2 separate regions of the Homo sapiens genome follow, and region 2 is linked to region 1. A link means that fine-mapping ties the variant in region 1 to the expression of a gene that starts in the linked region. Tissue or cell type: whole blood. Region 1 holds a variant in brackets; the other region holds the start of a gene. All regions are shown on one strand. Distances are from middle to middle.

Region 1 (2,682 bases):
GTGACTTTTTAGATGTGCTCATAAGTTTTGCAAAATCAGGGCATTTTGAAACCCCTGTAAGATTGACGGAGGAAAAAAAATGTATAACGGTCTAACAGTTTTAGGCAAAGTAAGAGATGAGTGTTTACTTAGGGCAGTGGTTTTCAAGCCATTTTTTTTTCAGCTGCAGAACCCTTTTTGTAAAACAAAATCTGAGATCCCAAATACTCTGAGTAAATTTATTTATATATTGTTTTAGTATTTGTTCATGTCTGTAAATGAGATCACAAATAACCACACAATTGAACACATATTTGAAAATACATCTTATTACATGATTAAGGCTGTTTTTAAAAGATAAAATTCCAATTAAAAGTTTATAGAATCCTAGTGTTTTGTGGAAGGTAATTCAGAAGCATCAGAAGGATTATGAAATTTGGGACTAGCCAGGTGCTTCTCCATGGAGGCCCGAGAGTTGTCATAGATTCATGCAGATGCCATTGGAGGTGATCTATATAGTGAGAGAGAACAAAGAGCAGAGGACACCCCAATGCTTTCTGTTTAATGGCCAAGCCAAACTAGTACTGAAGGGGCATGAAGAGGTGAGCCTGTGAACACTGTGACAAATGCCACCACTGTGAAAAGCTCCCCAGATCCCCCAATAAAGGGGAAAACAGGCAGGCCCTATCTGGGCAGGCTTGGATTGGCAGGACTGGGTTGGGGGGCACAGACACAGGCTGGAACCATCTATCCAGGGGCATACAGGAACGTTCCTTGGAGAGCTTCAGGAAGAGAAAGCAGGCATGTGGTTTTCTTGTTGGATGCGGCTAGATGGAATGGGAAGATAGAAAGCAACTAGGGTTAGGCCGGGCGCGGTAGCTCACGCCTGTAATCCTAGCACTTTGGGAGGCCAAGGCGGGCAGATCACCTGAGGTCAGGAGTTCGAGACCAGCCTCACCAACATGGTGAAACCCCCATCTCTACTAAAAATACAAAAGTTAGCCGGGCACGGTGGCAGGCGCCTGTAATCCCAGCTACTCGGGAGGCTGAGGCAGGAGAACCACGTGAACCCAGGAGTCGGAGGTTGCAGTGAGTCAAGATCACGCCATTGCACTCCAGCCTGGGGACAAGAGTGAGACTTCGTCTCAAAACAAACAAACCAAAAAACCAAAACAAAACAAAAAAAAGAAGTAACTAGGGTTCAAATGGCCCAGGGTTAAGATTTGGAGAAAGGAAAGGGAGAGCGGCCACTGAGAAAATGGCCCTATCTACAGTTGTGTAGGAATTTAGGACAGAGAAGTAACAAGAGTGATCTAAGCAGCACTGGAAACGTAGGGGAAGGGGGAGGTGTCGAGAGGGCGGCAAAGAAGACATGGAAAGGGCAGGGAAAAGAGCAGAGAATGTAAGGCCAGTGCAGAAAGAAACAAAGCAAAGGATAAGAAGTTCAAAGGCTGCTTCGAATACCTAAATCCATACAAAGATAGTATAC[G/A]GCAAGTCTTGTAATGTAATACAAATGGACTAAGCAAAAAAGAGGCCAGAGTTTCAGCCTATAGAACTCAGGAAAGGAAATGAGAATCAAAGTTTATTGAATCTGTAGAGTGTTTTGATGTTAGTGAGTGTTGGAAAATTATTTGCCGGGGGAGGGAGGCTTTGGTTGCTTGGTGGTAAAGAACGCAAAATAATCCCTTTTATAGTAATCTGTGAAGATCAAATGAACATGTATATAAGTTCCCACATAAACATATGATAATATTACCAGAAAAGCAATAGTAAATCATATTCTCATCTGGGCTGCAGGAATTTAGGAGGATAAGAATGATCTGATTTATCAGGGATGGCCTAATGACATTTAGGAAAGAAGGAATGAGGAAAGGCAGGGTTTATGAGAGCTATACGGTCCTGAAAAGGAAATGAATTCCCTCGGTTTGAATTATAGGTTTGGGCTTTTCATGTCCTGCCCTTAGACCCAATACTATAGCTGATCAGCTGTGAAGAGCTGTTTGCTAGATGCTGGGCACTTTACCTCCCTAAAAATGGCCCTGTGAGAAAATATTCCAGCACACAGATTAGAAAACCAAAGCTTGGATAGGACATGCAAATGACCCAAGATTACACAGCCAGTAAATGGGGAGCGAGGGCTCAAGCCCTAGGCTAACAGTCACAAGTCCCCTTGGCAGCTGGTTTTCTAGGTCCTGGCCACATAGCACCCTGAGATGTTCCCCCATCCTTTTGGCCCTTTTGGGGGTGGCCTCTTCAAGTGGCAGTAATCTCTCCTTTGAGGGCATTTGGTTTTACGAACATCTTTAAAAGTGCCCTTCTGGTGAAAATTAAGTTAGCAGCAAGCTTGAAAAGTGTAAAAAGCTTCTTCCATCACTATGCAAACGAAGCAGAAAAACATTACATATTAAGATTTCTTGGACAGGAAAGCACTTTGTCTCCTACCAATCTCCTCCCAGACTAAAACCTCCTTGTGTTCAGGGGCTGTCTTGTACAAATCTTTGTATATACTACATCCAGCATAAAGTCATGTATGTCATAACTGGCTAATAAGATAGTTTTTATCAAATAAAGGCCCAAAGCAACTATATGCAAGAAGGCAGAGCACAATTATTTATAATACATAAAAACTGTATTTTTCAAAGTAGATCATCACTTCTAACACAGGTGATTATACAAATTCCATCTGCAATTCTTTCTGAGGGG
Region 2 (2,682 bases), 150 kb after region 1:
GCAGTTGGGCCCAAGGGCTGGGTGAGCGCCTGGGGCTGTCCACAGTGAGCAGATTCAGCAGAATTGCAGAACGTGGCCACCCGGCTGACTGAGGAAGGCCCTGTCCCGTGGGCATAAAGCCAGGATTCCTTTGGCCTTTTGCTGCTGGAGGAAAACTAGGCTGATTCAGAAGGTCTCACCACTGCTCCCTAGCACTGACTAAAGTCCGGGATGTCAGACTATGAGGTCATATATCACAAGTCTCTGTACGCCTTTGATCCCCAGTTTCCACATCAATAAAATGGCGGTAATCATATCTGACGATTGGGCGGGATTCTATGAAATAATGCGCACAAAGCTCTGGCAAAACCCTATGTAATGGAAGATGTTACTGATGACCAGCACTCAAGTCCTTCCTCCAGCCTCCGCATGGAAAGTTCCCAAGTGTCCCTAGAAGTCTGGAACACTCTAATGTTGACTGGAAAGAATAAGATGGATCTCTTTTTCTGATATGGAAGCGTCCCAAATCCAGTCATACCAGCTGGGAGGCAGTGCCCGCTAGCGGTAAAAAGCATGGATTTTGGATTTGGACAGATCCCCCTGAATTGAAGGCACAAGGGAAACCACTTGTGCCTCTGGCCAAGTTAATTTTTCTCTCCAAGCGTCAGTTTCTCCACCTGTTAAAAAGTAACGGCAAACCTACCTCACTGGAGCTTAATAAGGATTAAGTGAAATAATGCAGGTCAAATATCCGAGCCTTGATATATATAAGCCTCATGTGTATGTGTTCCCATTTATGTAAAATAACAGTGTAAGCATATTCAAAGAAAGCAATTCAGAATGTACTCTTAAACTAAGCAATGGTTATCTTGGTGTGGGGAGTTGGGGAAACCAGGGGCCTGCCTTTTTCTCTATTATATAATGCTGCAAAGTTTGATCTTTAAAAAAGGACATTAAAAAGCCCAATTGTACTTTAAACAACACAAGTTTTAATACTTGGGTAAATAAATGGCATCTAAACAAAGAAAGAAACTGAAGGCAGAGCCAGGCCCAACCCTAGGAGACTGAGGAAGCGATTCTGCTTTGCCTGCCCCCAGCTCAACCCCTGCACTAAAACCCCCCGGCCCCAGCCCCAAGGTCCAGGGGGTTGTATTCCTGGGGGCGACCCGGCGCCCCTCAAGTCTCCCTCCTCTTGCACACACACACACACAAACCAGACTCGAATCCCCGCCTCCCAAGGGAAAGTGTTTTTTAAGGTCTGTTCCAGGGCCTGCCGGGGCCAGGGACCGAGGTGGGACTGAGTGGCCGGAACTCCTCCACCTGGGAGAGTCGGTCCGGGTAGCTGCGGCCAAGCTGAGTCAGCCCGGCGGGCGGCGCACGCGGCGCCGCGTGACCCGCAGCCACGTGACCCGCGCGGGGCCGGGCCGCCGGCGCAGTCGCTGCAGCCGCCGCGGGAGGCGTCCGTGTAAGTGGGTAGCAGGGCTGGCGGGGACCTTCCTCGCGGGCCGGAGCGCGGAGCGCTGCCCCAGCCCTACGGCACTCGGGGTCGGGACCCCGGGGAGCCGCCCTCACACATTTTCCAGGAGGGATCGGAGGGGCGATGGGGTGGTAATGGGGGTGGGGGACACGCTGTACCCCACCGACGACCGCGCGGGCCACCTTCGCCTCTTTCCTTCACACTCCCACTAACCGCAGTGCTGGGGGAACAAAATGTCCTCCTTCTGGAGCGATTACCTTTTCCCTTTTGTGCTTTGGGGGAAACTGAAGACCCAGAGGGGTTCGCAAAGCAAGGTGGGCCAGTAGGAAGACCCCTCCGCTAGTCCAGAGAGAGCACACAGCTCCCCAGGCAGAGCTCATTGCCCCACCTGCTCTAGTGGCCCAGCATGATCCCATGACCTCTCTACTTCTGGAGGAAGAGTCTTGGGGTAGACGGCGGGGAGGGGGTAGGGTATCCCGTTCCGGTAGGGGCAGGGATGAGGGAGGCGGGGCTGAGCCGAGCATCTATCTGGATGGTAACAGCCAACGTAGAAAATACTAAGTTGTTTACATGCATTCTCTCATTTCATATTACCCGTCGTGAAGTCTGTGAAGTAGGTACTATTGTCCCAATTTTTACATAGGAGGAAACGGCTCAGAGAGAACTTAGGTCCTTTGACCGAGGTCCTGCAGGTGGTAAGTGAAGGAGCTGAGATTAGAACCCAGATCTGCCCCCAGTGGCGCCTCCTCGTGGTCTGTGGGTGGTGGAGACGACTGGCCTAGCCTCTTAGCTCCTCTGTGAATAGAAAGGCCTTTTTCCTGGCTCAGACAGCTTGGGAAGGGGATTGTTGCTGGGTAAGAGAAGCTTCTCCCACCACCTCCATCTCTTTCTCTGCCCCTTACCATTGATTCCTTTCTGTCATCCCCTCTCCCCCACTGCAGGACAAGATGAAGCTCATCATCCTGGAGCACTATTCTCAGGCGAGCGAGTGGGCGGCTAAATACATCAGGAACCGCATCATCCAGTTTAACCCAGGGCCAGAGAAGTACTTCACCCTGGGGCTCCCCACTGGTGCGTTCTTGGATGGAGAGGGTGCCGTGGATAAGGGTGGAGAGAGTAGGCAACAGGGGCCAGGTACACCGGCTCACTCAGCCAAGGGACTTCACGGGGGCTCTGGGGTACTGGTGCTGAGAGAGCACCTTCCTGCCCCTTCCACATACAAAGGA

What was found. PIP is the estimated chance that this variant, and not a neighbour inherited with it, causes the effect.
Region 2: it holds the start of GNPDA1, and the variant in region 1 is fine-mapped to the expression of GNPDA1 in whole blood (INTERVAL, PIP above 0.99).

What each region holds. Positions count from the first base shown.
Region 1 is chr5:142,160,133-142,162,814 of GRCh38, reverse strand. The region is part of intron 2 of LOC107986455 (a long non-coding RNA gene); the gene reads left to right. Among named protein-coding and RNA genes, the nearest start is that of NDFIP1, 53 kb to the right of the region's middle. The variant G/A (reference allele first, on the strand shown) is at 1,469.
Region 2 is chr5:142,011,757-142,014,438 of GRCh38, reverse strand. It overlaps GNPDA1 (glucosamine-6-phosphate deaminase 1), which reads left to right and starts at 1,412. Exons shown (of 7, transcript NM_005471.5): 1 at 1,412-1,444; 2 at 2,398-2,527. The coding sequence starts at 2,404. RefSeq lists a cis regulatory region at 1-145 and silencers at 1,287-1,556, 2,228-2,287.